Linked DNA regions of Homo sapiens. The protein of the gene in region 1 interacts with the protein of each later gene in a biochemical or structural test. Each region holds a gene or a part of one and is shown in the gene's direction. Other genes may lie near its edges.

What was found.
Region 2: the proteins of ESR1 (region 1) and UBE3A form a complex in vitro, tested with the Homo sapiens proteins (2 studies listed by BioGRID, with this or other methods).
Region 3: the proteins of ESR1 (region 1) and FLII form a complex in vitro, tested with the Homo sapiens proteins (2 studies listed by BioGRID).
Region 4: the proteins of ESR1 (region 1) and HDAC4 form a complex in vitro, tested with the Homo sapiens proteins (2 studies listed by BioGRID).

Annotation. Positions count from the first base shown.
Region 1 is NC_000006.12:152,096,917-152,104,081, forward strand, and holds the end of ESR1 (estrogen receptor), read left to right. Parts: intron 1-1,815; coding exon 1,816-2,050; 3' UTR 2,051-6,358; downstream 6,359-7,165.
Region 2 is NC_000015.10:25,351,681-25,359,752, reverse strand, and holds part of UBE3A (ubiquitin-protein ligase E3A), read left to right. Parts: intron 1-2,856; coding exon 2,857-3,062; intron 3,063-3,696; coding exon 3,697-3,861; intron 3,862-5,069; coding exon 5,070-5,225; intron 5,226-5,326; coding exon 5,327-5,400; intron 5,401-8,072. UniProt on the Homo sapiens protein: E3 ubiquitin-protein ligase which accepts ubiquitin from an E2 ubiquitin-conjugating enzyme in the form of a thioester and transfers it to its substrates.
Region 3 is NC_000017.11:18,254,915-18,262,891, reverse strand, and holds the start of FLII (protein flightless-1 homolog), read left to right. Parts: upstream 1-4,153; 5' UTR 4,154-4,201; coding exon 4,202-4,264; exon of another isoform or gene 4,265-4,415; coding exon of another isoform or gene 4,416-4,445; intron 4,446-5,872; coding exon 5,873-5,983; intron 5,984-6,294; coding exon 6,295-6,366; intron 6,367-7,628; coding exon 7,629-7,709; intron 7,710-7,977. Other genes in the region: MIEF2 (mitochondrial dynamics protein MID49), read right to left, coding at 25-178, 1,731-1,756. UniProt on the Homo sapiens protein: Is a regulator of actin polymerization, required for proper myofibril organization and regulation of the length of sarcomeric thin filaments. It also plays a role in the assembly of cardiomyocyte cell adhesion complexes.
Region 4 is NC_000002.12:239,390,470-239,398,541, reverse strand, and holds part of HDAC4 (histone deacetylase 4), read left to right. Parts: intron 1-8,072. UniProt on the Homo sapiens protein: Responsible for the deacetylation of lysine residues on the N-terminal part of the core histones (H2A, H2B, H3 and H4).

The DNA of each region.
Region 1 (7,165 bases):
GTTTTTATTTGTTGAAAGGAATTGCTGAATTTTCAAATCCATTAACTGCTTGTCAGCATTAGCAAGCCTAATTAGTTAATACTAAGTAAATTTGCACTAAATATACAACCCTGGCTGATTTTACTGGCCACGTCTGGCAGAGGGCAGCAGCAGGGAGAAAGCTCTGTAGAGTTTCTGTTGGAATCGTGTGAAAAGCTGGAGAGGTTGCTTCTCTTTCTCTCTCTCTCTCTTTCTCTCTCTCTCTCTGACACACACACACACATACACACACACACAATTGTAATAATAATAATATTTTGGTTCCTCACTAAGCCAATCTAAATCGCAGAAGTCTATTTTGTTAAGTAAGCTTGGCCCCAGCCATATGTTGCTACTCAGAGAATTTAATATCAGATTTCATCTGACTGTAAACGTGAATCATCAGGTTGCACAAGGAACACAGTGGCAGATCCAGGGGGCATTTAACTTTTATAGCATTTTAAATGAAAAAAAAAAAAAGTAACACTTAAACAAGTAATTTAGATCATGCTGTAGGCCCTGAATAGCTTTGATGTTGTGTTTTCATGGCAAGTCTCCAACTTGAGCTGAATTTTCCCCTACTAAAAATGCAAATTTTTCTAAGACCTTCTCTTGGTCCTGCTACTCATGATACATATTTCTTTTAAAAGAAATTTCAAACTAGATAATAGTTGTTCTCCTCCCCACCCCCGCCACCAGTAGTGTGGTGGGGCAGCAGAGTTGTGGCTAGTGGAGGAGAGCAGAGGAGGAGAGTAGGGAAAGGAGAATGCCATTTGCCTACATTTCCCTCTGCCCATTTCCCGCTGCCCATTTCCCCCCTTGTTTTCCTGAACGTGAACTGAGCTCTGGGCACTGTTTTAGGCCTAGCAGGGGACAGGATAAAGCCTGCTTCTCTAGGAATTCGCACTGAGGGTGTGAGTGTGTGCACGTGTGTGTTTGGAGGCGGGAGAATAAACACAAATAAATAAAAAGGAGAATTTCAGGCAGTGATAAGAGTGCTGAGAAAAACAGAACGGTGTGAAAGAGGAAGGCTGAGCCTGCAGAGGCTTGAGGCTGCTGCCACTGGGTAGCGGTAGGCCTTTCCGAGGAGGCGGCATTTGAAGACCGGAGGAAGGTTCATCCCAGCAAGTAGGAACAGCAAGTGTAGGTCCCCTAAGTCTTGGGGGAGCTTAGTTCCTTTAAGGGCAGCACAAAAATCAGTGTGGCTCCGGAGAGCACATTAGGGGAGAGAGGCAGGAAGAGCTTGGAGACATGGATGGAAGCTGGACCAGTTGGGCCTTGTTGAACATGGAAAGGCATTTAGATCGTATTCTGAGTTAAATGGGAAGTGACGTGAGAGATTTAACAATGGAGCGTCTTGAACTGCTTTACTCATTTAAAATACCCACTCCTGCTTGGCTGAATATCTCATGTTGTCTTTTTAGAAGCTTTGGCGATCCTATTTGAATGCATTTAGGTCCTATTGGAGGGGAATAGGATCTCATTTGAGGCCACGGAGGTCCATGGAAGTCACCTGCATAGCAAATACCCTGAAAGTGGCTGCAGGGAGAGTGTGAGGGTGGGACCGCCCTGGTAGGAGGTGGAAAATGAAAAACACACGGCCATGAGTTCCAGATTAGGGCTTCTGAAAGCCCTCAGCTTTCCCAGCTCCCATCCTAAAGTGGGTCTTTAAACAGGAAGAAAGAAAGATTGCTAAGTGTCTTTGGAGTTCCTCTTCCTTCCCCTTCTAGGGATTTCAGCACTCCTGGGGCTCGGGTTGGCTCTAAAGTAGTCCTTTCTGTGTCTTCCCACCTACAGTAACAAAGGCATGGAGCATCTGTACAGCATGAAGTGCAAGAACGTGGTGCCCCTCTATGACCTGCTGCTGGAGATGCTGGACGCCCACCGCCTACATGCGCCCACTAGCCGTGGAGGGGCATCCGTGGAGGAGACGGACCAAAGCCACTTGGCCACTGCGGGCTCTACTTCATCGCATTCCTTGCAAAAGTATTACATCACGGGGGAGGCAGAGGGTTTCCCTGCCACGGTCTGAGAGCTCCCTGGCTCCCACACGGTTCAGATAATCCCTGCTGCATTTTACCCTCATCATGCACCACTTTAGCCAAATTCTGTCTCCTGCATACACTCCGGCATGCATCCAACACCAATGGCTTTCTAGATGAGTGGCCATTCATTTGCTTGCTCAGTTCTTAGTGGCACATCTTCTGTCTTCTGTTGGGAACAGCCAAAGGGATTCCAAGGCTAAATCTTTGTAACAGCTCTCTTTCCCCCTTGCTATGTTACTAAGCGTGAGGATTCCCGTAGCTCTTCACAGCTGAACTCAGTCTATGGGTTGGGGCTCAGATAACTCTGTGCATTTAAGCTACTTGTAGAGACCCAGGCCTGGAGAGTAGACATTTTGCCTCTGATAAGCACTTTTTAAATGGCTCTAAGAATAAGCCACAGCAAAGAATTTAAAGTGGCTCCTTTAATTGGTGACTTGGAGAAAGCTAGGTCAAGGGTTTATTATAGCACCCTCTTGTATTCCTATGGCAATGCATCCTTTTATGAAAGTGGTACACCTTAAAGCTTTTATATGACTGTAGCAGAGTATCTGGTGATTGTCAATTCATTCCCCCTATAGGAATACAAGGGGCACACAGGGAAGGCAGATCCCCTAGTTGGCAAGACTATTTTAACTTGATACACTGCAGATTCAGATGTGCTGAAAGCTCTGCCTCTGGCTTTCCGGTCATGGGTTCCAGTTAATTCATGCCTCCCATGGACCTATGGAGAGCAGCAAGTTGATCTTAGTTAAGTCTCCCTATATGAGGGATAAGTTCCTGATTTTTGTTTTTATTTTTGTGTTACAAAAGAAAGCCCTCCCTCCCTGAACTTGCAGTAAGGTCAGCTTCAGGACCTGTTCCAGTGGGCACTGTACTTGGATCTTCCCGGCGTGTGTGTGCCTTACACAGGGGTGAACTGTTCACTGTGGTGATGCATGATGAGGGTAAATGGTAGTTGAAAGGAGCAGGGGCCCTGGTGTTGCATTTAGCCCTGGGGCATGGAGCTGAACAGTACTTGTGCAGGATTGTTGTGGCTACTAGAGAACAAGAGGGAAAGTAGGGCAGAAACTGGATACAGTTCTGAGGCACAGCCAGACTTGCTCAGGGTGGCCCTGCCACAGGCTGCAGCTACCTAGGAACATTCCTTGCAGACCCCGCATTGCCCTTTGGGGGTGCCCTGGGATCCCTGGGGTAGTCCAGCTCTTCTTCATTTCCCAGCGTGGCCCTGGTTGGAAGAAGCAGCTGTCACAGCTGCTGTAGACAGCTGTGTTCCTACAATTGGCCCAGCACCCTGGGGCACGGGAGAAGGGTGGGGACCGTTGCTGTCACTACTCAGGCTGACTGGGGCCTGGTCAGATTACGTATGCCCTTGGTGGTTTAGAGATAATCCAAAATCAGGGTTTGGTTTGGGGAAGAAAATCCTCCCCCTTCCTCCCCCGCCCCGTTCCCTACCGCCTCCACTCCTGCCAGCTCATTTCCTTCAATTTCCTTTGACCTATAGGCTAAAAAAGAAAGGCTCATTCCAGCCACAGGGCAGCCTTCCCTGGGCCTTTGCTTCTCTAGCACAATTATGGGTTACTTCCTTTTTCTTAACAAAAAAGAATGTTTGATTTCCTCTGGGTGACCTTATTGTCTGTAATTGAAACCCTATTGAGAGGTGATGTCTGTGTTAGCCAATGACCCAGGTGAGCTGCTCGGGCTTCTCTTGGTATGTCTTGTTTGGAAAAGTGGATTTCATTCATTTCTGATTGTCCAGTTAAGTGATCACCAAAGGACTGAGAATCTGGGAGGGCAAAAAAAAAAAAAAAGTTTTTATGTGCACTTAAATTTGGGGACAATTTTATGTATCTGTGTTAAGGATATGTTTAAGAACATAATTCTTTTGTTGCTGTTTGTTTAAGAAGCACCTTAGTTTGTTTAAGAAGCACCTTATATAGTATAATATATATTTTTTTGAAATTACATTGCTTGTTTATCAGACAATTGAATGTAGTAATTCTGTTCTGGATTTAATTTGACTGGGTTAACATGCAAAAACCAAGGAAAAATATTTAGTTTTTTTTTTTTTTTTTGTATACTTTTCAAGCTACCTTGTCATGTATACAGTCATTTATGCCTAAAGCCTGGTGATTATTCATTTAAATGAAGATCACATTTCATATCAACTTTTGTATCCACAGTAGACAAAATAGCACTAATCCAGATGCCTATTGTTGGATACTGAATGACAGACAATCTTATGTAGCAAAGATTATGCCTGAAAAGGAAAATTATTCAGGGCAGCTAATTTTGCTTTTACCAAAATATCAGTAGTAATATTTTTGGACAGTAGCTAATGGGTCAGTGGGTTCTTTTTAATGTTTATACTTAGATTTTCTTTTAAAAAAATTAAAATAAAACAAAAAAAAATTTCTAGGACTAGACGATGTAATACCAGCTAAAGCCAAACAATTATACAGTGGAAGGTTTTACATTATTCATCCAATGTGTTTCTATTCATGTTAAGATACTACTACATTTGAAGTGGGCAGAGAACATCAGATGATTGAAATGTTCGCCCAGGGGTCTCCAGCAACTTTGGAAATCTCTTTGTATTTTTACTTGAAGTGCCACTAATGGACAGCAGATATTTTCTGGCTGATGTTGGTATTGGGTGTAGGAACATGATTTAAAAAAAAACTCTTGCCTCTGCTTTCCCCCACTCTGAGGCAAGTTAAAATGTAAAAGATGTGATTTATCTGGGGGGCTCAGGTATGGTGGGGAAGTGGATTCAGGAATCTGGGGAATGGCAAATATATTAAGAAGAGTATTGAAAGTATTTGGAGGAAAATGGTTAATTCTGGGTGTGCACCAGGGTTCAGTAGAGTCCACTTCTGCCCTGGAGACCACAAATCAACTAGCTCCATTTACAGCCATTTCTAAAATGGCAGCTTCAGTTCTAGAGAAGAAAGAACAACATCAGCAGTAAAGTCCATGGAATAGCTAGTGGTCTGTGTTTCTTTTCGCCATTGCCTAGCTTGCCGTAATGATTCTATAATGCCATCATGCAGCAATTATGAGAGGCTAGGTCATCCAAAGAGAAGACCCTATCAATGTAGGTTGCAAAATCTAACCCCTAAGGAAGTGCAGTCTTTGATTTGATTTCCCTAGTAACCTTGCAGATATGTTTAACCAAGCCATAGCCCATGCCTTTTGAGGGCTGAACAAATAAGGGACTTACTGATAATTTACTTTTGATCACATTAAGGTGTTCTCACCTTGAAATCTTATACACTGAAATGGCCATTGATTTAGGCCACTGGCTTAGAGTACTCCTTCCCCTGCATGACACTGATTACAAATACTTTCCTATTCATACTTTCCAATTATGAGATGGACTGTGGGTACTGGGAGTGATCACTAACACCATAGTAATGTCTAATATTCACAGGCAGATCTGCTTGGGGAAGCTAGTTATGTGAAAGGCAAATAGAGTCATACAGTAGCTCAAAAGGCAACCATAATTCTCTTTGGTGCAGGTCTTGGGAGCGTGATCTAGATTACACTGCACCATTCCCAAGTTAATCCCCTGAAAACTTACTCTCAACTGGAGCAAATGAACTTTGGTCCCAAATATCCATCTTTTCAGTAGCGTTAATTATGCTCTGTTTCCAACTGCATTTCCTTTCCAATTGAATTAAAGTGTGGCCTCGTTTTTAGTCATTTAAAATTGTTTTCTAAGTAATTGCTGCCTCTATTATGGCACTTCAATTTTGCACTGTCTTTTGAGATTCAAGAAAAATTTCTATTCTTTTTTTTGCATCCAATTGTGCCTGAACTTTTAAAATATGTAAATGCTGCCATGTTCCAAACCCATCGTCAGTGTGTGTGTTTAGAGCTGTGCACCCTAGAAACAACATATTGTCCCATGAGCAGGTGCCTGAGACACAGACCCCTTTGCATTCACAGAGAGGTCATTGGTTATAGAGACTTGAATTAATAAGTGACATTATGCCAGTTTCTGTTCTCTCACAGGTGATAAACAATGCTTTTTGTGCACTACATACTCTTCAGTGTAGAGCTCTTGTTTTATGGGAAAAGGCTCAAATGCCAAATTGTGTTTGATGGATTAATATGCCCTTTTGCCGATGCATACTATTACTGATGTGACTCGGTTTTGTCGCAGCTTTGCTTTGTTTAATGAAACACACTTGTAAACCTCTTTTGCACTTTGAAAAAGAATCCAGCGGGATGCTCGAGCACCTGTAAACAATTTTCTCAACCTATTTGATGTTCAAATAAAGAATTAAACTAAAGACAACGAGTTTGTTTTTTGTAAGCTCCACTTCTTGCTAGCAGTTCACCACTGATCCTCTAAAATCAAAGTGGTTAAACGATCTGTCACACACAGTGAGTCTGAATGCTAAAGCCTCTCCTCACCTCACTCCCTCTGCCCAACACCCCCAGGTGTATCAGGAAGTGTGTGGACACTGTGGTCAGGCAGAACTGGCCTCAATTCTTGGCTTCACCACTTACAAATTTTATGATCATTGGCAGTTGATTTTTCAGAGTTTCGGCTTCCTTATCAACAATATGATGATAAGTAATAACACCTAATTCACACGATGGTGGTGAGGACTAACTGAGGTGCTCATTAAACATAGTTGCTGTTTTTTAATGCCTGGCCCAAATCCTTCCCTGTGAGGGAGAAGAAGGATGCTTGAGAGTGGTTATTTATGAATGAATGAGTGAATGGAAGAATGAGTGATCTGAAATGATATAATTAGCTTAAAAACCTCTCCCTCATTCTGAAGGTAAAGCAGGAACAATTGGTCCACCCCCACCCCAGGTTTCCATTTCAGGACTCCCTTCCCTTTTTGGAGCTACCTGCGTGCTTCCTTTACCCATTTTCTCAGATTTAACTGATGAATTGGGAGGGGGTGGGTATAGGACTTACTGAGATGCAACATAATATTCACACAGGCTCTGCAGCTAGATTACTGTTTGAATCTTCATTCTACCTTTTTTTTTTTTTTTTTTTTTGCATCACCTTGGGCAAGTTGAGTTCCCTGGGCCTCAGTTTCTTGACTTGTAAAGAGAGATGACAGTGCATCTGCCTGGAA
Region 2 (8,072 bases), on another chromosome or scaffold:
TGATAAAGTAGAACAGGGAAAAGATGCAGTCTTTTGGGTAGTCTACTTAACTTCATAATTCTGAACTGGTTCAGTTTCTACTGTAAATATAACCACTTAGTAACTGAGCTTGCTTACGTTTAAAATTGAGTACATGACAATTACAGGAAAAGGTTTCCACTGAAGGTACCATCAGAATTGTGAGGAGTGTGCATAGAATAATGTATGTCATTTCCCTTCAGCTTTGAGATTTGAGCTGTTATAGCCTGTTGATTCTAATTGAGTTGACCTTTCTGTTACTGTTCTTAGTCACACACACACACACACACACACACACACACACACACACACACACGCATCCCTTATCTATAATCTAGCTAGTGTTTTATTAATAACTAAAAAGCTATGCCATTTGTATGTAGTTTGTTCTAAGTAAATCAGAGATACATAAGACGACGCCCTTTTTGAGATAGAAAATTATAAACTTCATAAAGTTCTTAAATTTGGTAAACCTTAGCTCTAGCTTTTGATGTATCTAGAAATGTTAAACCTTAGCTATAAAGCATACTTGCATTATATGCAGAAATACTTGTAAGAAAAAACATAGATTAAGCAGTTCCAGTAAGATAACTGAAGTGATGGCAGTAGAAGTATCAAAAAGGAGTATTTTACCAGGAGGTTATGGTGCTTTTCTCCCTGGAACATGAGAAAATGTGCCTAAAATGGAACTTCAGAGTTATATTCTGATTAACTTATAGCTTGTTGCTCTTGGTTCCAAGGAAGGGCATTTGTGACATTTTATTAAATTCATTAATTTTTTAGACACACCATTGTCAGCTTGAACAAATTTATTAATTGTAATTATTTGTCAGCTGTTCTTGATCCTGTTAATACCATACTTATAACTAAAAGCATTTCCATGGATGTTGTAACTTGGCCTGTAAAAAAAATGTTTAGATAGAAACCATGAAACTCAAATATGAATTGTTTAATTTTCAAACCATTTTGCATTCAGAAAATGTCCTAAGCTTAATTCATACTCCTAGTGATCAAGGAAACATGTTAAAGCTCCTTATTTTTAAACTTAAAGTGACAATGACATTTTCAAAGATTTTAAAATTCTTATAAACAGGTTAAAATACTTATATACTGTATAATTTGATTTCTGATTTCTAAGCTCTACTTTTCTATTGGAAATTACAGATTTTTTTCAGACTTAATTCTTAAGATGTTTTCATTGTTTCACAGTAGCAACTAAACATGTAGTAAAATGATTTAAATTCAATTAAAATTTTTTTCCTTAGTCATTTAAAAGGGAAGAAATCAATTTTTAGTAGTACTCATTCCAAAGATTCCAATTTTCCTTTTTTTTAATCTTTTATTTTTTGGTGGAGGGAGGCAGGATCTGGCTCTGAGGCCCAGGCTGGAGTGTAGTGGTTCTGTCTCGGCTCACTGCAACCTCCACCTCCCAGGCTGAAGACTCAAACCATCCCCATGCATCACCCTCTCAAGTAGCTGAGACTATAGGCACATGCTACCACACCCAGCTTATTTTTTGTGTTTTTGTAGAGATGGGGTTTCTCCATCTTGCCCAGGCTGGTCTTGAACTCCTGAGCTCAAGTGATCTGCCTGCCTCAGCCTCCCCAAAGTGCTGGGATTACAGGTGTGAACTACCACACCGGGCCCCAATTTTCCAATGAGTGATATAAAAAAGGCCTCCACGCAGGCGCCTGTAGTCCCAACTACTCCGGAGGCTGAGGCCAGAGAATGGCATGAACCCGGGAGGCGGAGCTTGCACTAAGCTGAGTGCTGCTGCACTCCAGCTTGGGCGACAGAGCGAGACCGTCTCAAAAAAAAAAAAAAAAAAAAAAGCCTCCATGATTGGGGCTTGCATAGTGAAGACCATGTGAAATTGAAAGACTACGAAACTACTTTTCTTTTACGTATTGGCCCATAATTAACATGTGTATTGAATAGCTTTGTTTATCTAAGTTCATCAGATTTATCCAGGTTTATGTATTTCAGATCATCTGATTTTATTAGGAAAATGCTAGAAAAATTTCATGGCACCATTGTCTAATTTTGAAAAAACGAACCTTTCTTTACTGTGATTAAAAATTGTTTTTTAGGCCAGGTGTGGTGGCTCACGCCTGTAATCCCAGCACTTTGGGAGGCTGAGGCTGGCAGATCACGAGGTCAAGAGGTTGAGACCATCCTGGCAAACATGGTGAAACCCCTTCTCTACTAAAAATACAAAAATTAGCTGGCGTGGTGGTGCACACCTGTAGTCCTAGCTACTCAGGAGGCTGAGGCAGGAGAATTGTTTGAACCTAGGAGGCAGAGGTTGCAGTGAGCTGAGATCGTGCCACTCCAGCCCACCCTGGGTAACAGAGCGAGACTCCATCTCAAGGAAAAAAATGAAAAATTGTTTTCAAAAATAGTACGTGTGGTACAGATATAAGTAATTATATTTTTATAAATGAAACACTTTGGAAATGTAGCCATTTTTTGTTTTTTTATGTTTATTTTTCAGCTATGGGTGGATAAAGCATGAATATAACTTTTCTTATGTGTTAGTAGAAAATTAGAAAGCTTGAATTTAATTAACGTATTTTTCTACCCGATGCCACCAAATTACTTACTACTTTATTCCTTTGGCTTCATAAAATTACATATCACCATTCACCCCAATTTATAGCAGATATATGTGGACATTGTTTTCTCAAGTGCTAATATAATAGAAATCAATGTTGCATGCCTAATTACATATATTTTAAATGTTTTATATGCATAATTATTTTAAGTTTATATTTGTATTATTCATCAGTCCTTAATAAAATACAAAAGTAATGTATTTTTAAAAATCATTTCTTATAGGTATGTTCACATACGATGAATCTACAAAATTGTTTTGGTTTAATCCATCTTCTTTTGAAACTGAGGGTCAGTTTACTCTGATTGGCATAGTACTGGGTCTGGCTATTTACAATAACTGTATACTGGATGTACATTTTCCCATGGTTGTCTACAGGAAGCTAATGGGGAAAAAAGGAACTTTTCGTGACTTGGGAGACTCTCACCCAGTAAGTTCTTTGTCATTTTTTTAATTCAGTCTCTTAGATTTTATTTAAATGCAAAAATTTAATTTATGTCAAAATTTTAAAGTTTTTGTTTAGAATCTTTGTTGATACTCTTATCAATAAGATAAAAATGTTTTAATCTGACCGAAGTACCAGAAACACTTAAAAACTCAAAGGGGGACATTTTTATATATTGCTGTCAGCACGAAGCTTTTGTAAGATTGATTTCATAGAGAAGTGTTTCTAAACATTTTGTTTGTGTTTTAGTGAAATCTTAAGAGATAGGTAAAAATCAGAGTAGCCCTGGCTAAGGGTCTTGGTAGTTACAACGAGTGTGCCTGCTCCTACCACCCCCACCCCCACCTTGAGACACCACAGAATTTCTCATAGAGCACAGTGTGAATTCTATTGCTAAATTGGTGGTATGGGGTTTCTCAGCAGAGAATGGGACATCACAGTGACTGACAATCTTTCTTTTATAGGTTGGAAACTATTTGGGGGACTGGAGGGATACTGTCTACACTTTTTACAATTTTTATTGATAAGATTTTTGTTGTCTTCTAAGAAGAGTGATATAAATTATTTGTTGTATTTTGTAGTTCTATGGTGGCCTCAATTTACCATTTCTGGTTGCTAGGTTCTATATCAGAGTTTAAAAGATTTATTGGAGTATGAAGGGAATGTGGAAGATGACATGATGATCACTTTCCAGATATCACAGACAGATCTTTTTGGTAACCCAATGATGTATGATCTAAAGGAAAATGGTGATAAAATTCCAATTACAAATGAAAACAGGAAGGTAATAAATGTTTTTATGTCACATTTTGTCTCTTCATTAACACTTTCAAAGCATGTATGCTTATAATTTTTAAAGAAGTATCTAATATAGTCTGTACAAAAAAAAAACAAGTAACTAAGTTTATGTAAATGCTAGAGTCCACTTTTCTAAATCTTGGATATAAGTTGGTATGAAAGCACACAGTTGGGCACTAAAGCCCCTTTTAGAGAAAGAGGACATGAAGCAGGAGATAGTTAATAGCTAAGTGTGGTTGTAGTATAAAGCAAGAAGCAGGGTGTTTCTTGTATTAAGCTGTAAGCAGGAACCTCATGATTAAGGTCTTTATCACAGAACAAATAAAAATTACATTTAATTTACACATGTATATCCTGTTTGTGATAAAAATACATTTCTGAAAAGTATACTTTACGTCAGATTTGGGTTTCTATTGACTAAAATGTGTTCATCGGGAATGGGAATAACCCAGAACATAACAAGCAAAAAATTATGACAAATATATAGTATACCTTTAAGAAACATGTTTATATTGATATAATTTTTTGATTAAATATTATACACACTAAGGGTACAAAGCACATTTTCCTTTTATGATTTGATACAGTAGTTTATGTGTCAGTCAGTACTTCCACATTTTTGCTGAACTGGATACAGTAGGCAGCTTACCAAATATTCTATGGTAGAAAACTTGGGACTTCCTGGTTTGCTTAAATCAAATATATTGTACTCTCTTAAAACGGTTGGCATTTATAAATAGATGGATACATGGTTTAAATGTGTCTGTTTACATACCTAGTTGAGAGAACCTAAAGAATTTTCTGCGTCTCCAGCATTTATATTCAGTTCTGTTTAATACATTATCGAAATTGACATTTATAAGTATGACAGTTTTGTGTATATGGCCTTTTCATAGCTTAATATTGGCTGTAACAGAGAATTGTGAAATTGTAAGAAGTAGTTTTCTTTGTAGGTGTAAAATTGAATTTTTAAGAATATTCTTGACAGTTTTATGTATATGGCCTTTTCATAGCTTAATATTGGCTATAACAGAGAATTGTGAAATTGTTAAGAAGTAGGTGTAAAATTGAATTTTTAAGAATATTCTTGAATGTTTTTTTCTTGGAAAAATTAAAAAGCTATGCAGCCCAATAACTTGTGTTTTGTTTGCATAGCATATTATAAGAAGTTCTTGTGATTAATGTTTTCTACAGGAATTTGTCAATCTTTATTCTGACTACATTCTCAATAAATCAGTAGAAAAACAGTTCAAGGCTTTTCGGAGAGGTTTTCATATGGTGACCAATGAATCTCCCTTAAAGTACTTATTCAGACCAGAAGAAATTGAATTGCTTATATGTGGAAGCCGGGTAAGAAAGCAGGTGTCTGCAAAAAGTCATGTATCGATTTATTGTTTGTAATGATACAGTAGTATAGCAGATAACTAAGACATATTTTCTTGAATTTGCAGAATCTAGATTTCCAAGCACTAGAAGAAACTACAGAATATGACGGTGGCTATACCAGGGACTCTGTTCTGATTAGGTGAGGTACTTAGTTCTTCAGAGGAAGATTTGATTCACCAAAGGGGTGTGTGATTTTGCTTCAGACCTTTATCTCTAGGTACTAATTCCCAAATAAGCAAACTCACAAATTGTCATCTATATACTTAGATTTGTATTTGTAATATAATCACCATTTTTCAGAGCTAATCTTGTGATTTATTTCATGAATGAAGTGTTGTTATATATAAGTCTCATGTAATCTCCTGCATTTGGCGTATGGATTATCTAGTATTCCTCACTGGTTAGAGTATGCTTACTGCTGGTTAGAAGATAATTAAAATAAGGCTACCATGTCTGCAATTTTTCCTTTCTTTTGAACTCTGCATTTGTGAACTGTTACATGGCTTCCCAGGATCAAGCACTTTTTGAGTGAAATGGTAGTCTTTTATTTAATTCTTAAGATAATATGTCCAGATACATACTAGTATTTCCATTTTACACCCTAAAAAACTAAGCCCTGAATTCTCACAGAAAGATGTAGAGGTTCCCAGTTCTATCTGCTTTTAAGCAAATGCCCTTACTACTCTACTGTCTACTTCTGTGTACTACATCATCCAATTCTGAAAGACATAGGCTTCCCCATCCCCTGCTAAGACTGGTTCAAGTGGCAGCTACTGATGGATTGCAGTGAGAAGGCATGCAAACACGTACCTTCCTGGAAGTTGTCTCCAAAGGCTATTGCTCTAAGACTCAAGTATATAAACACTAGAATGAATATCAACTCTATCTAGCAATAAATGTTATTTTTATATTACAGTTGACCCTTGAACAACACAGCTGTGAACTTCATGGGCCCTCTGACATGCAGATTTTTTTTCTCAACTAAGAGCAGATTCAGTATTGGTGGGACTCAGAACCTGCATATACAGAGGGCTGACTTTCATACATGCCAGTTTCACAGGGCCAACTGCAGAACTTGAGCGTGCATGGATTTTGGTATACACACGTGGTCCTGGAACCAATCCCTGTCACATATACCAAGGGATGGCTGTATGTTACTTTATATTCATTTGTTCTGTTATTTTATAAGGTTGTTCGTCGTGGTATGTGGGAATTCACCAGTATTTCTTCTTTCTGGTGCACCGTTGGTCATTTCTGGCAGCAGTGGTGAATGTATTTACTCTTAGCAACCTCTGTGCTGCTACCTGTTCTGAGTTTCAAAGGTGATTCATTAAAGGGTTGGGATAACATGGTGATAGGAAAAACCCCCCTCATCAGTCACAAGGAGTATAACAGCAATATCTCTGTAATATGATTGATCATAGATATAATTTCTAGTAGGAAAAAAAGTCATATCTTGATGCATCTCTGAGAATAGTTGAACATATCTTGTGCTATTCTTTATAGAGAAATTATCTTTGAAATTAAAGTCTTAATTTTACTTCTAGCTTTTTATAACAACATAATCCCTACTTGGTATGTATCTTAAGATCATTTTTAAATGTATGATTTGAAGGGCAAACTAGTGTTATGTGAAAAATGACAGATAAAGTAGCTTCCAACTCATCCTCAAGAGTTGATGATATTCTAAACCTTTTCTAACTAAATTCAGCTTCTTAATTTTCTCAATATAAATATGATGAAAATATTAATTCATTAAATAGTCTACAAGTATTCGGTAGTTGAAGACTTAAAGTAGTGCTTGTAATAACAGAAGAGAAAAAAGACATTACAGGCGTATCTCACTTTATTGCACTTTGCAGATACTGAGTTTTTTTGGTGGCAACCCTGCATCAAGCAGGTCTACCAGCACCATTTTTCCAACAAAATGTGCTCACTTCATTAGCATTTTTAGCAATGATTTTAAATTAAGATAATGTACTTATTTTTAGACAATGCTGTTACACACTTGACTACAGTATAATGTAAACGTAACTTTTATAAGCACTGGGAAACAAAAAAATTTGTGTGACTCACTTTACTGCCATAATCACTTTATTTGCCATGGTCTGAAACTGAACCGGCAGTATCTCTGGGGTATGCCTGTATAGATATTTTGGTTGGTATTTATTTATTGTATGCAGAATTCATAAAAATAAAAACTGCGAGGCTGTTTAATACATTTCAACTAAAAGTTGCCAGCATCATTAATATGTAAACCACTAGAAATAAGATTTTGTTAATTTTTTGTTTGTTTGTTTAAACAGTCTTGCTCTGTCACTGAGGCTGGAGTGCAGTGGCGCAGTCTCAGTTCACTGCAACCTCCGCTTCCTGGGTTCAAGTGATTCTCCTGCCTCAGCCTCCTGAGTAGCTGGGGTTACAGGTGCACACCACTACACCTGGCTAATGTTTGTATTTTTAGTAGAGATAAGGGTTTTGCCATGTTGGCCAGGCTGGTCTCAAACTCCTGACCTCTGGTGATCCGCCCGCCTCGGCCTCCCAAAGTGCTGGGATTACAGGCGTGAGCCACCATACCTAGCAAAATCAACTCTGAATCTGAATCAAACCTTTGAAACAAAAATTACCAATCAAAAAAACGTGCAATCCCTGCTCCTAACTTTGAAAAAGTGACAAGGAAGGACATTTGGAAAGATGTCTCTAAGCAGTCAACAAGAAATGAAATCAGGGAGAGCTTTTTCAGCACCTGAAAAAATACATGCAAAAACGCCCGAGGCGGGCAGATCACCGGAAGCCAGGAGTTTGAGACCAGCC
Region 3 (7,977 bases), on another chromosome or scaffold:
CATGACCCGCCCACTTGGCCTTACCCGCTTCACGGCCAGGGTGGCAATGCCCAGCACAGCAGCCCCGCCCACGCCCAGCACCAGGCGGGCATTGGCCAGGAGGAAGTCCACCATGCTGCCCAGCCCTTCGTCGCTACGCCGCTTCCCCCGTTTCTGGGAGAACTCTGCCATGGTCTGCCTGTAAGAGAGCCAGGGGTGAAGGGGCAGCTCAGGTGCAGGTGGCCAGGCTGGGAGAGGGGCTGCTGTGGACAGGTGCTCTAGCTGTCCTTATGCTGGGTAACAGAGCTGAGCCCATGAGGGGGGCTTTCTGAGAATTTCTCAGAGAAAGGGGCCACCCATCCACAGGGGAGGACACCGAGGCCCTGGGAAATCACGTAAAGTACCTGAGAAAGGGCAGGGATGGGATATGAGCTTGGGTTTTGGGGTCCCAAGCCCCCATCTCTCATGAGGAGATGAGGGAGCTGCCAAGCCCCTTCTCCCAAAGCTGCCTGGAAAGAAGCTCACAAAGGCCCTGAGGCTTGTGCAGGTATAGGAAGGGGCCTCTCTCCCTGGAGCCCACCCTCCAGGACCTCTGACATCACCAGGGTGTCATCATCACTACCCCTATGTTACAGAGCTACAGGCTGCCAGCTCACAAGTGAGTGGTAAGGTCTCCAACCCATGACTGCAAGGCCTCCAGACTCTCATCCGCCCACAGAGTCTGACGGATTCTCCCTGTGCCAGGTGCCCAGGTCCTCAGCAGCAGCCTCATCTGAAGGTTCCTACCCAGAGGGCACAGCAGCCCTCTATGATAACCTCTTCAGAAGAGCCCAAAGTCCAGAGAAGACCAACAATTTGGGGCCCCAGCCAGTCTGGGGGACCACTGGGACCAGTTACCCCCAAATCTTGACAGGGTAGCCCAAGAGGCAGAGCTACCAAGTCAGAGCACGGGCAGAGTAAGACGGCCCAAGCTGCCCAGGCAGGCCAATGCAGATGTGCTTGTCAGGGTTGAAGCCCCTTTGGCAGGGCAGAAAGGGCTGCCCAGTGCCTCTGTACAGGGGGCTCTCTGGGCCTCTCAGTCTTGGGACAATGTGTAGGTAGTGGTGGGTGATGCTTCTCAACTGCCGGAAGGCCAAGCAACACAGAAAGTAAGGTGAAGGCCTGGGCCCCAGCCTGTTTGCTCACCTGTAAGATGGCATAGGCAGCAGTGAGGGGCAGATGTGGGCAGCCTTGAAGTGTGTGGCTGGGTGGGGGCCAGCACTTGGGAAGTGGAGGCAAAGATCTCCTAGGGCCCAGTCCACATTCCTCACGTTCTGCGAGGGGGACACTGCCCTCAGGCCCTGGGAGCTGAGAAGGGCTGGGACCTTAGGACATCAGTTAGACACCAAGCAGAACTCTCCCGGGGAGGCCTGAGCAGATGACCATGAGGTCACAGCCTGCCCGGGCACCAAGGACTTCTACCTGCCCTGCCAGAGTGTGGGTGCCAGGGGCCCAGTTGCCAGGTGACCAGATGCCTGGAGTAGCTGAAGCCTGAAGCGCTGTGTGACTCAGCCCCGTACACCCGCCCATTCGCCCCAGACTAAAAATAAGACGGTCTCTGGGGCGATCCCAGGCCAACCGGGTGACCCGCCACGGCCCCAGGGCCGGTTTCAATCTCCTCATCGGTGACTCGGGGATCAATACTGCCACCCGCCCCCAGAGAGACCAGGAATCTACTTTGCAAACTGTAAAGCGCTTTAAATACTCCCAACCTGTCTAAATTGGGACTCAGCCCCATCTCTGGCGGGGTCGCGCAGGCCTCAGTCCACAGCCTTCCAGCTCCGAGAAGCAGGAAAGGGCACGGGTGGCTGAAAATAACCCAAGTTTGCGCAGCGGGGCCCTGGAGGCCGTTTGGCCTTCCCTCCTCCGCCAAACCTGCCTGCCCTGGGCCCGGGCGGAGCAGGCCGCGCAGCAGCCCTAGGTGGGCGGGTGACGCCCCGTTCGCAGGATAAACCAAGAGACCGAGAGGGGAAGGGGGCTGGGCTAGGATTCGAACGCTGCCCTTGGTCCCCCAAAGGTCCCCTCCCCGCCTTCCCCAGCGGTGATCGCGGGCCACGCCCCCGATCTGCGTTCCGTCGCGCGCCAAGCCCCGAGCCCGGTGACCCTGGGGGCCGCCCCGCCGCGCTCCAGCTGTACCTGCGTCGCAGCTTCCGCACGACGACCGGAGGAGGCAGCGGGACCACGGCCCCGGAGCTCAGACCAGCCTGGGAATGGAACGTGAAGGACCCTGGAACCCAACGACTAGGGCCCCGGGGGCAGCCGCGGACTTCGCAGCACGCAGACAAGCAGGCCCTAACTCCAATCGGAGCGCTCGAGTCCAGCGCACAGGTGCCAAAATACTGCGCGGTTCAGCCAATGAAGGGCAGGTCCCGCCCCCCAGCCGACAGCCGCACTCCCTCTGGGGCGGGACTCCCTGACGCAGTCTGGATTTAAAGGTGCAGGGCTGCATTCCGAGACCGCGAACAGGTGACGTGACAGGCGACCCTCCAGGACGTCTGTGCGTTGTAATGTGAGCCTCCGGTGTGGAGGAAGCTGTCTGGGCCCCGTTCCTTCTGGGGACCAGGTAGAGAGGCTGCACATGGCTAGAGGCCCGGCACATCCAACCTCTTAGGTCACCTCTGCGAGAGAGTGTCTTGGTGGCCTCATTCTTACCTGTGGGCCTGAGGGGCACAGCGCCTACCCCTGCCACCTGCTCTGTGCGAGCTTGTGTGGGCCATTCTCCACCTGGGCATCAGTTTTTCTCCTGTAAAATGGGGACACTAGACCCCCTCCTCCCCTGCGAAGGATGGTTGGGCATATAACAGCTGTGGCTCATTTATTGGGGTCCTGCTATGTGTCAGCCAGGGCGAGCCCCCTTGAACAGCAAGGACCAAGACGGATGCTTCTCTTCTGGAGCCTCCCTTTGTAGGGGGGTACGAGCACAGGGGTGCTGACACTAAGTGGGAATAATAACCTGGCGCACAAAACAAAACAAAACGGAATAATAACCTGCCACTCACTGAGCGCCTGCTGTATGCTGCGAGCTACACGTGCATTCTTTGTTAATTTGCTCATGGTGACAACCTTAGAAAGTATTTTACAAATGAGGAAACTGGGTAGGGCGCGGTGGCTCACGCCTGTCATCCCAACACTCTGAGAAGCTGATACCAGAGGATCACTTGAGGCCAGGAGATCAAGACCAGCCTGGGCAACATAGCAAGCACCCCGTGTCTACAAAAAGTATAAATAAGGCCGGGCGCGGTGGCTCACGCCTGTAATCCCAGCACTTTGGGAGGCCGAGGCGGTTGGATCACGAGGTCAGAAGATCGAGACCATCCTGGCTAACACGGTGAAACCCCGTCTCTACTAAAAATACAAAAAAAAAAAAAAAAAAAATTAGCCGGGCGTAGTGGCGGGTGCCTGTAGTCCCAGCTACCCGGGAGGCTGAGGCAGGAGAATGGCGTGAACCCGGGAGGCGGAGGTTGCAGTGAGCCGAGACTGCGCCACTGCACTCCAGCCTGGGCGACAGAGCGAGACTCTGTCTCAAAAAAAATAAAAAATAAATAAAATAAATAAATTTAGCCAGGTGTGGTGGCCTGCGCCTATAATCCCAGGTAGTCGGGAGGCTGAGCCCAGGAGTTCGAGGCTGCAGTGAGCTATGATCACACCACTGCACTCCAGCCTGGGCAGCAGAGCAAGAAGACCCTGTCTCAACAAAACAAAAACAACACATGAGGAAACTAAGTCCAGAAGCAGGAGAGCTAGGACCCGAGGATCCAGGTGTCTCACTACCACCGGTCAGCCAAGTACAGGCACTTCCTGGGCCTCTGCGCCCCGGGGCCGAGGTTTAGAATCTCTCTGAGGTCAGGGCCAGCTTCATGTGCTGCAGCAGCGCAGGTGACGGTGCCTCGACCAGCGGCCGTTACGGCCCCTGCCCTGGGGCGCTGGGACTTAAGCCTGGAGATCGTGGAAGCCTCCAACTCCAGCACAGGGGGGGCCCGCACTCCTTGGTGCCTCCGCAGTCTTCGAACAGACGGGGAAACTGAGGCCCTAAGAGGCCTAAAGCCTACACTTCCCCGCGGAATGCGGCGGGCGCGGGCGGGTTAAAGGGGCGGGGCCGGCGCTGGCCCAGCCCGCGGCTCCCCCCAGCGCCCTCGCCCCGGCGCTCCCTAGCCCGGCGCGGCCCGGCAGCGAGAGCGGCGCCATGGAGGCCACCGGGGTGCTGCCGTTCGTGCGTGGCGTGGACCTCAGCGGCAACGACTTCAAGGTGAGCCGGGCCGGGCGCGTGCCGGGCCTCCCTGCAGGCCTTCTCTTCCGCCCGGCCCGCTTGGCCTCCGCTTCCTGTCCCGCTCGGCTCCAGGCCCTGCGTGTCCCAGGGACTGCGGCCGGGGCGGGGTGGGGCTCTCCCCTGGCCAGGAATGGACCTCCGAGGCCTCCGCCCAGTGCCTGTACGGGGAGACCGAGGCTGGGCAGGCCGGGGACGGACGCTTGGGCTCGGAGTCCCGCCGGGGGCCCGGCCGGGAGCCCCCACCCCGCGTCCGTGTTCTCGGTCTAGGCTGGATGGTGGCCTGGGGATCGGGCGAGCCTCCCCGCCCCTCTGAGGTCACACGCCCAAGCCAGGCCCTGACTCAGGGATGGCTGCCCGGCTGCCCAGGGGCGGGTGTGGAGCCGACTCATCACTGCCCTCTCCCCGCCACCGCCACCCGCCATACTGTGTGATCCTGGGCCTCTCAGATCACTTCCCCTCTCAGAGCCTAGGCTTTCTCAGCCGGTGAAGGGGCTTAAAAGTCTCCTCCTTGGACGCAAGGAGTATAGTGAGATTTGTTGGTGTGGAGAGTGTGTCAGGCCGGTGTGCCAGGTGCTGGGTGGCAGTTGTCTGAGCAGCTGCTGGACTGAGAGAAAAGGGACCGGAGCCCAGCCCTCCGCAGCCAGTGGGTGGGGCGGCGGGGTGGTTCCAGGACTCAAGAATGAGACAGGCATTGCCTGACCAAAGGGGAAGCAGAGAAAGAGAGGGAGGGAGAGCTGGCTGGAGGGTCAGCCTCACCTTCAGGGTGGGTGACTGGCAGGGTCGGCCTGGGTTGTTGGTCTGGGGCTGGGGCCGAGGAGGCAGGTTTTTCCTGCGTTTACCTGCCTGTGTACACACCTTTGACCCCAAGTACAAGTGGCTACACCACTTTTCCCTGACCCCATCCCCACCACCCTAACCTGGGGTCCCCGTTCCTCTTTGCTGAACTGGGAGAGTCCGAGTCACCAGCTGGGAATGTGGCGCTAGGGGGAAAGGAATATCAGCCGCAGGCACTGAAGGCACCTACTGCCCCAGACTTGGTGCCACAAGGGCTGGAGGTGCCGAGGTGGGCGTTCACACACCAGGGGAGTGCAGTGATGCTGGCCTGCCCTGCAGGGTGGGGAGCCACGGTCTCCGCAAGCAAGGGTTTGACCCTGGCCGTGAGTTGCCAGTGTGCTGATGGCAGGATGAGGGCACAGGTGGCGCCTTTGCAAAGGCTTGGAAGGGGGATCCCCCACCCCAGGCAGCCAGTCAGAGTGTGGAATGCTAGGTGAAGGAATTTGAGCCGAGCTAACCACAGAGCCGGATGCTGGGCTTTCACCTGAAACAAGCCAGTTTTGTCCTGGCCCTCCTGGGGCCCAGAATCCAGTAGGAGAGACAAATCTTAGGCCAACACTTTTGTCACGGGGGGGCTTAAAATTCCCATTCTATGGGTGAAGAAATTGAGGCACAATGATGAAATGACTTGTCTGTGTTCTCACAGATGGTGAGAGTTGGTTCTGTGGCTCCCCAAAGGCTCCCATGGGCTGGAGGAGCCATAGAAGGTGGTGAGCAGGGGCTCTGTGCTTCACCTTGACATCCTTCCCCCAGGGCGGCTACTTCCCTGAGAATGTCAAGGCCATGACCAGCCTGCGGTGGCTGAAGCTGAACCGCACTGGCCTCTGCTACCTGCCCGAGGAGCTGGCCGCCCTGCAGAAGCTGGTAAGGGGGTTTGGGCGGGCAGGGGAGGGTCCCTGTGGATGAGCCAGGTGGGCAGAGCCTGTGGAGAAGGCAGACAACTTCTCCAGAGAGAGGAACACCGACAGCTATGAGCAGAGCTGGAAGAAAGGGAGTGGGCACCCTGTCCAGGGAGGTGTGCAAGAAGAGGCCGGGTGAGTGAGGGAGGGAAGCTGCAGGGGTAGTTGGGCCAGTGTGGCTGAGGCCTTCCTGGATGGTGCAGAGTTGTGGAGGCAGGCAGGGACTCTGGACACCCCACCCACCCTGCTGAGCCTGTGCTCCCCATTCCGGCCCAGGAACACTTGTCTGTGAGCCACAACAACCTGACCACGCTTCATGGGGAGCTGTCCAGCCTGCCATCGCTGCGCGTGAGTGCTGGCCGGGAGGCCACCGAGCTTGGGGTTGGGGCCAAGGTCCGGTCAGGGACGTGAAGCCTGGGCTAGACACCAAGCTGGGCCAGCATTTCTGCCCACCTCCGTGTCAGGCTCAGAGGCTCAGGTGTCACAGAGGGGCCCTCTCATTAGAGGTTACAGCAGTGCCCTGTGTAAAGTAACCCATGTGGATCAGAGAATTCCATCAGGAAAAAGGTAAAGAAATCCAAAATCTTACCAGCCGTTATGGACAATAACTACAGTAATAATAGCCAAGACTGGCTGAGCAATGTTCCCACTATTCTGTTAGGATTTTTTCATATGCTCTAGCCCTCCACTAATGTTGCAGAAGAGAAACTTGGCCACCAAGGCAGATTACTTGCCCCAGGTCACAGAGCCAGGCAGTGGTAGAGCTGGTGTTGAGTGGGGTTTGGCCGGGAGCACCGTGTACCTTCTACCCAAGACTTGAACGTCCCAGAACATCAGGCCCTTGGCCAGACCCTGTAGGCCTCAACGAGGGCCATCCCATCTGAAGTCAGAGCCCTGGAGATGTTTAGGGCACAGCTTCTGACTTGGACTCTCTGAGTTCAAAGCTGGGCTTTGCCACTTCCTGGTGATGTGACTTTGTACAAATCGCTTCTACCTTCTGGGCCTCCTCTGCAAGTGCAGTGGTTGGGAGGGGCAGCAGTGACCCCGTGAAGCAGCAGCAGGGTGCCGCACAGGCATTCAGACTGGAGAAGTGGCGGGGCAGCTCCGGTGACTCCCGTTGTCACTTGGAGTCACGACACCATTCTCTGGCCCTGTTCCCTCATGCTCAAGCTTTCTGCATGTCTGTAAGGTATGAGGAGGTGTCAGTCTTAAGTTAGGGAGAGAAAGCAGACTTCCTCTCCATCCAGATTCTGATTTCTCTGTGGTCCACTTCTCTCCCTCTGTTCTGAAAACCCTGACTCAGACCTTACCCCTATCTCACCTTCTGGAATTAAGAAGAAGAGAAATGGTTTGAACAGAAAAGGTTCCCTGAGGGCCCTGTGCTGGGGCTCCGGGGCACATTTGAGCTGGGCTTTGAGGCATGAATAGGAGCTCACTGGGAGGCTAGGAAGAGCGCTCCAGGAGAGGGAGCTATTTGATCAAAGGCCAGAGGTGAGAGAGTCCTCAGGCCTGGCCTCTGGTGAGCTGCCTGAGGAGGTGTCCCTCTCTAGACTCTGTTCCTTCCTGAGAGTGGAAGCCAGGAATTATAGACTCTTATGGTTTATTCCCAGGCCATCGTGGCCCGAGCCAACAGTCTGAAGAATTCCGGAGTCCCCGATGACATCTTCAAGCTAGATGATCTCTCAGTCCTGGTCAGTGGCTACCCACTCACCTGGCCCCTGTGCTAGCCGGACCATTCAATCCCCACTCACTATAAAAGTCCCTGGGGCCATTGTTATCCCATTTTGCAGATGGGAAAACTGAGTCTTGGAGTGGATAATACCTTGCCTGAGGTCACTTTTGGAGTCAGATCCCTAACACAGGCACTCTTCCTCCCAAGTCCCTGGCTGTCTCCCTTTGGCCCTGAAGCCCCCTCATCTACCCCCACACCCAACTCAGTGCCCTGCCTGATCCCCAAGC
Region 4 (8,072 bases), on another chromosome or scaffold:
TGGATGTTTACCAGGAGGACTCTAGTGCTGGAAGTTTCCACACATTGTGGGGTTGCTGCAGTTTAATTTTGTTATAACTCTTTCCTTTTAACTACTGCATATTTATGCCCAGTAATCGACTTCCATTCTCCAGCTTCATTGTGAGGTTTCAATGCAGCATGAATGGCTTTGAATTCCAATCCTTTAATGTTGGGGGTGGCACCAAAGGAAAGGCGACTTTATGCTGTCTTAATTGCCGGAGCAGAAGAAACATTTCATCACTCCTGTAGAATTCATCCATACCATTCTCTATTGAAAACGGCTGGGCTTTCATAGCTCAGAAGCTGCCATGAGTAATATATTAATACCTGATGTAGGGCGCGAAGGAGCCGCAGAGGCCGAGAGAACTGCCGTTGCTGAGAGGCAGCGGGGCGACAGGCTGTGGCCGGGCTTTCCTCCGAGGCTCAGAATTGATGACTAGCTGGGGATGGGGGAACTGAAGGGCGAAGGGGCCCAGTCTCCACCTAAGCTTGGGGCTGTGGAACCGAGACTGAGCCCCTGCCCTGTTGTTGGCAGCCCCCAGTCTGTCCTGGGGTAAGGAGTCGGAAAGGATGGATTTGGAGGGAGTGTTTGTTTTGATTTCAGGTGGTCAGCATATGCCCTGCCGTGTGGTGGGCTCTGGGTTTTTGGCCTTGACGTTAGAGGCGGGTACTGCACCTTCTGGTTCAGGTCAGATGAGGGGTGCCATGTCAAAAGTGATGCTACCTTTGAACAGACCTTAACTCATTCATAAGCGTTTCTGTGGGAACAAGTGTCACTAAGGTCAGTAAGTTCTCTTCATACGGTCAGTTTTCTTCTCTTGGGCTTCTGTGCGTGGGAAGAGTGGGACCTGTTTTGGGGTGGCATGAGGGCCATGGTGCCTGCAGCATTAAATGGCCATGTCCCCTTGCTGCAGCCTCACTGACAAACCTCCTACTCACTTCCTAGAAGGAGGGTCAGGGTCCTACATGTCCCCTTGCTGTGGCCTTGCTGACACACCTCCTACTCACTTCCTGGAAGGAAGGTCGGGGTCCTGCATAGATTGCCCCCACCGTGACTTCCTGTATCACTGTCGGGGGATGAGGATGTATCCTGGAGCAAGGAGATGATGCCACGAGCAGCTGTCACGTGCTCCCGTAGCTGACGCCAGATGAGCACCTGCTTGGGGCTCGTGCTGTTTCATGCACTCACCATGTAGGTGTCAGCACAGTCCTGCAGGTGGGCTCTACCTCTGGAGGAACTGGGGGTAGAATGAAATGGACCATGTGCCACCCCCTGCATCTCCAGTCCCAAAGGCCAGTTCCTCTCCGTGCCTCTGCTTCTAGGCTGGTGGTGACCTTGAAGCTGAAGTTCAGCTTGTCGAGGTGCTTGGGCGAACACAGCCTCTTAGAGAAGAGGACGATTTGGAATACCTTTCTAGTTCAGTGTCGTTAGACTTTCTAGTGCTGTGTTGACTGTTCTTGGCGCTGTTACAGGCGCGTTTCATAGGTCTGGGCAGTACTTCTGGCTTTCTCATGCTGTCTTATGTCACGTGTGGGACTGCAGAACTAGAAGACATCATGTTCTTCTCCTGCAAAGTCCCCAGGACGCCTGGAGGCAGGTGGGGGTGACGGAAGGGAGCTAATGCTCCAAGTCCACTTCAGCCGGAGCAGCTTTTAGTGTTTGTTGTTCGGTCTGTTGATTACCTTGGAAGATTTTATTGGAAGAAAGCATTTGAGGACCAAGTTAATCTACTCTTTCAATACCAACCCAGAAACCTTAAAGAAAATCTTGACAGATTTAATAGGATAAGAGTTTTTTAAAAAATCTCTTTGGCAAAAGACTCCGTCAGCCGGGCTAAGAGACGAGAGAGAAAATACATACCACATTATGCCTGTGTAAGCTTAACAGTCAATATATAAAGAGCTTTTACAGACCAATAAGGAGAGCATGAGATCACCATTGCAAGATGAGCAGAACGTATGAACATTGAATCATTGTGCCAGTGATGAAAGGTTAGCATTACTAATCAATTCAGTGTGAAGGAGATTCCCTTTATGCCTATCATATTGGCGAGTTTGATGATACCTGTTGCTGGTCATAATAATAATTTCTATTTTGTAAGGTTTTTGCAAAGTTTAAGTTAATGTATGGAAATTTCCTTGAATAGGGCCTGGCATGTAGTAAGCATGATATAAATGTTGGCTGTTATTTATTATCATTTGCTCTCTGGAGAGACCCATATGTATTATTATATAAAATATAATAGGGCTGGGCGAGGTACCTTATGCCTGTAATCCCAGAACTTTGGGAGGCCAAGGTGAGAGGATCACTTGAGCCCAGGAGTTCAAGACCAGCCTGGGCAACATAGTGAGACCCTCATCTCTACAAAAAAAAAAAAAAAATCAGGCATGACGTCGTGTGCCTGTAGTCCCCATTACTTGGGAGGCTGTGGCAGGAGAATCACGTGAGCCTGGAAAGTCAAGGTTGCAGTGAGGTGTGATTTTGCCACTGCACTTCAGCCTGAGTGACACAGCGAGACCCTGGGCTGTCCCCCCCAAAAAAGTTTATATATGTAATGTATAAACATAAAATAGTGATTACCGAATTGCTCTCTAGAAAAGTCTTAAGTGTCAAAATCTTAAATGCCATTCTCCTTGTCCCCACAGTTCTACATTTTGAAATCTATTCTAAGGAAAGAAGATAAGTGTGTAGATATCCAGACGTGTGTGGAGGTCGGGGCTGCATTATTTATAAAAGGAGTACTTGTTAAACCTGCTGGCATTTCTGCACTGTGGCATCCTCCATGTGTAGACAGGCAGAAGTGTGCAGTGTAAGAGGGAAAGGCGGGGTCTGGAGCAGTCCCCGGGCCACTCCTGGTTTTAAGTACATGGGTCTCTAAGGTAACCATCAGAGGTGAGGAGACGGGGTACACTTTTCTTTTATACATGGTGGTATTGTAGAGATTCTTTTGGTAAGCGTGTATTACTTTTTTACAGTAGTAATTTGAAAACATTTAGATATCTTCATTGGAAAGAAAAGTACTCTTTAAGTCCTTGGCAAGTTGATAAATATGCTTTGCAATAGAAGAATTTAGGGGCATTTGTTTTTCTAACTCACATGTAAGCTCTTCAAGGTGGGGACTGACCCTCGGGGTCTGAGCGGGCTCTGCTACAGCCCATCCTACAAACAGTCTCCCAGGTTTCCACCAGAAGCAGGTTTGTACCTCTCATTCCCTTGCTTGAAACCCTGGCATGACTTTCCTGTATTCTTAGGATCCTAAGGTCTCAGGGCCCTGGAAGGCCTGCCTGATCCTGGCCTCTGTTTTACCAGCCTCATCTGATAGCACTTGCTGTGTTTGTGGAGTTTCAGCTGCCACCTGCTTTACTTTCTAGCTCTCTCTAAGTCCCCTTTGACCTCGGGGCCTTTGCACACACTGTTCCCCTTCCTTGGAATGGCCTCCCTTTACCTTCCTCTTCTCCAGCCCCTCAGTTCATGCTCATCCTCTCATCCTTTGATCCCCTGTTAAACTTAGCCTAATAGCTTTTTTCCTCCTTTCTAACAGCATCCCATTGTGCAATTTCAGGAAGGAGCTCATTGTGACCTTAGTTGTTTAATGCCACCTTTTCTACTAGCTGGGGCTCTGTAGGATTGAGGGGCCCTGAGGGCCTCATGCCTGCTCTGTACCCTGTGCTTGGCAGTGTAGGTGCTCGAAGAATGAAAGAAAATGAATGAGTGAATGAATGAATGGATGAGTAGGTAGCCCAGTGAATGGCACAATGCGGGCCTTGGGTGGGAGAGCTGGGGTGAGGCCCCACCTCTGGCCTGGCCCCTCTGCGGGGTTCTTGCCAGTGCTCTGGAATTGCCTGTTTCCTGACACCCCCTGCCCCCATCTGGGAACTTCTTGGTCCTGATTTTGGAGATTACATGCTCCTAAGGAGATGTCATAAATGCAAGTGGAGGGAATTCTGTGATGCAGAAAGGAATGGGAGGGAGAAGGGCCTTCAACACAGCTGTCGAGTGGCAAATGCGACTGTTGTGCCAAGGCCAAGGCAGGTGTGTGCAGCTTGTTCTCCAGCCGCTTCGCCCAGGGCCCCGGCGTGTGAGGAGGCGAGTGGTGCTTTTATGAAGAAGTTTTTCTCTGCTTGTTTTAAATTAGAATTAATGACATTATTTAATCACTTCTTATTTAGCGTCATAATTTTAATATGATACATTAATATGTTTGTGTACATAAACATTTTGGAGTCTGCTCTGTTTAAAAATGTGAGTGTTGGGCTTTGTGAGTTTACTGTTGTTTATGAAGTACTCCGTCTGTGTGAGTCAAGTGCTTTTGCTGGATTGATGTTTAAGCTTGAAACAATAAATCAGTTCTTAGGACCTGAAAGTCTGAACCAGCATTCCAAGTGGGAGTATTGTTCAAGCGGTGATGGAATTGCATTTTCCCTTGGGAATGGCCCATCATCTGGTTTATGTGTTGCTATTTGCTGGAGCGGTTCTTTTTTAAACTGAGGAAGAGAAGTTTCTGTGGTATCTCCACTGGCCTCCCTGGTGGTGGGGTTGGGGGTGGAGGGGGGGTGGTCCTTGGGGGCCATGTTCCCTGAATATTTCTAATTGATTAGTTATTATTTTGCAAATACTCATTTTACACCCCAGCCCAAGTACTAGGTTTTACATGAGATGAGACTCAGTTGAACACATTCTCTGTGCCAGACGCAGTGGCCAGCCCCATGACCCCAGGCTTGATCAGGAAAACTGGCCTCTGCCCACAAGAGGCTTTGGTGTTGGTAGGGACAGAGGAGAAAAAGGAGCTAAACAGGCAGGTGCACACGGGTCACCATCCTGAGAACCAGGGCTGTGGCTGGAGGGCTTGCTTGGTAGGGAGAGCCGTGGTGCAGGAGCCAGGCCCAGATGAGGAGGAGGAAGGGGAGGCTGGGTGGGTGGGAATGGGGTGTGGTCCTTTTTAGCCAGAGCCAGAGTTTCGGGGCTGCATTGTGAAAAGGGCATTGTGGCCAGATGGTGGCCTGGTGACTGAGGTCTCTGAGGCCAGAGTGCGTGAGCCAGTGATGAGCCGGGCCAACTGGCAGGCTGCCTGGGTGGGGTGGAGGTGTGGTCTGCACAAAGGACTTCCTTGCGTTTTCATGTATGTGTAGTCTTCTTGCATTTAATGGAGAGTTTGCTTCTGTTCTTTCTATTTTGTGCACTGGTGCCTGGCTCCAGCTGGGTGATGGACCTGATCTCTCTTGTTCTAACTTTGTGGAGGCAGGCCCATTCAGATGCATCCCAAGGAGGCCTCCAGGTGGTCCATGGCGCGGCTAGGCCCTCCTTGGGGCACATGCTTGGTGGTGCTGTTGTGGGGACTTCTGCATGAAAAGCAAGGGCAGCTTCCAAAACAAGGGCAAGGTGAAGAAGGTGGCTCACACGCCGGGGGTCCCAGTCCTGTGGCTCTGAGACGGGCCGCATCCAGAAGGGAGGGGGTTCCTTCCTTCTAGCAGTGCTGGCGAGAGCTTCCTCTGTGCCTAGGTCCAGGATTCTGTAGAGTAGCTGTCAGGACTGAAGCCTGCCAGGAGTCTGTGTAGAAACCGTGCTGGAGGGGACCCGCTGGGGGACCCGAGCTGGCACCCCCAGTGCCACCGGTTTACACACCAGAATTCCGGGTCTGAGGCTGAGCCCAGCCTGGCCCATCTGCAGGGGCCTTGCTGGCTGGCACCGTGCCATGTAAGTCAAGTGGCAGAAAGTGGGCCCCCAGCAGGTCAGCAGAGCGTGGCCAAGGGCCCCTGAGCCTCAGTCCTCCCTGTGGCCTGGGGCTAATCCCAGCTGGCTATTGAGGACTTACCCACCCCCAGGACTCATGTCCGAGCCCCGTAAGCTCAGGGGTTAGAGTGTTCTAAGGAGGCTGACCCCCATTCCACCTCTGGGGGCTGTGGACAAGGAGGGGAAGATGGCCTGTGGGTCCACACAAGCGGGGTGTATCTTAATTAGTGATGCCAACTGTGCCTCCTTGCTTGCAGGATGTGGGTGGCCCTCTGACCTTTTGGACCTTTAAAGTGAGCCATAAAGAAAACCATTGGGAGGTTCTGGCATATTAAAACCCCCTCTACTATAAAATTTACATCAGATTTTGCACTGAAAAAATCCTCATAGGTGGTCACAGTCCCCATTCTTTGGAGAACACTTGTTTGCCAGCTCAAGGGCTCTGTGTTGGAATCCGCCCCTTGGCTCTCCAGGTCAGAAGGATGCATCAAAGGAGATGTCACTGGGGTGCCTGTGTCTTCTCGCCTTTCGAGTGCCTGCCCTGAAGCAGCTTGCTTTCCTTTGCCCCTGAGTGTGCAGCACAGCCCAGCGTAGCTCGGTTGCTGGCTGGGGCAGCAGCTGACCTGCAGAGCCGTTACGTGCATGCCCGCTGCCATCCGAGGGTAGCAGCCGGGCTGGGCCATCCCACCCCTGCCCGGCATGGTGGCCCGGGCAGGATGGGGCCTGGTGTGGGAGCATCCAACTCACCTCCCAAGCTGGTGGGGATGTTGACCTTTTGGGCTTCGGAGTTCACAACCAACCATGTGCAGTGCTTCCCGCGGTCCCTCCCTGAAGAAGAGTGTCTTTCCATGTCAGCGTGCCAGCTTCAGCACACGCGGGCTGCGTTCTGACGAAGTTCTGTTTTCAGAATTCTTCTGGTTAAGCGGAGGCCAGAGCTGAGGCACGTGGGAGCTGCGGAGGGCCTCTTCTCTTGTTTCACGTATCCTTCTCCTGGTTCCTCGGTGCTCTCGTGGGTGTGGGGTGAAGGGTCTGATTGGTGGATGTGCTCTCTCCTGCTCGTCACACTGCCAATGTGCCTGCAGTGGACAAGAGTGATTTGCAGTGATGTCCTGTGTTCCATGGCTCTGGGGTGTTGAGTGAGCATCGGTTGAGATCCCAGCTTCACTGTCATGACCCCATCACCTCAGTGAGTCCTTTGTCATCTGCTGAGTGAGTGTCTCTCCCGCAGAGACTCAGCTTTCCTCTTCCTCCTCCCCCGCTGGCTCTGAGGACACACAGCCCTCTCTGCTGGCAGGTCTTGGGAGGAATGAGGAGTAGGGTATGTCCCCTGCCCGGGGCCTGCTGCTGACCGGGCCTTGGATGCACCTGCAGGACTTTCTGAAGCTCCTGCACCTGCTCAGGGTGTCTCTGCAGCAGGTCGTGGTGTGGTGGACGTCTCCCCGAAGGACCTTAGTACAGTTTGAGAACAAGCTCTCGTCTGCCTTTGTCCTTGCAGGGACTGTGTCATAGTTTACAGAGATTAGACTCTTGAAAGCTCAGAAGCACCGTGATGCTTCCCACGGACACTGTCAGCCCCCAGGGCATGCTGCGCTTGTTAGGGACCTGAAGGGCCAGCGTCCCTACCCGGTATGCAGAGCCCGGCTCGTGATGGTGGCTCAGCTGCTATGGCATGTCCAGATTGCGCCTTGGCCACAGTGTGATTCGTATCGAGGCCGAGCCGAGGCCCCTGGCCCTGAGGATGACTCGAGCGGTCTGATGGACACTGTGCCACGGCTTTGCCGTCTGTCATGCTTCCCAGTGTGCTGGGAGAGGGAGCTGCCCTGAGACTGTGGCTGTGCGTAAATCCAGGCTGCCCCGCTTTCCCTCCCCTTGGTTCTTTCTGTCCCGTCTTCACTGCTTCTGATTTGCATGAGCAGGGACCCTGAAGGACTGTGTGCATTTTGCCCACTGCCTTGGTCAGAGGGCTACCGGGTGTGGCTGCAGTGTCTCAAGGGAGGCTGCGTGGCTGGGTGCTCAGGTCCAGGCTCGGGGCTCCAGGCATGTGGCGGCTCCTGGTAGCAAAGTGAGGGGTAGTGCCGCTCTGGAGGGCAGTGAAGGACAGGGAGATGGGAGAGGTCAGGGCTGGGGCTGCGGCCGCATGGTGCCCCTGTGGGCACAGCTCCTCCACAGGTGGAGGGTGGGAAAGGCACTCTAAGGGGATTTTTGGGGGTGGCTTCCAATATATATATATATCTTTTGAGACAGAGTCCTGCTTTGTTGCCCAGGCTGGAGTGTACTGGTACAATCACCACTCACTACAGTACAATCACCACTCACTGCAA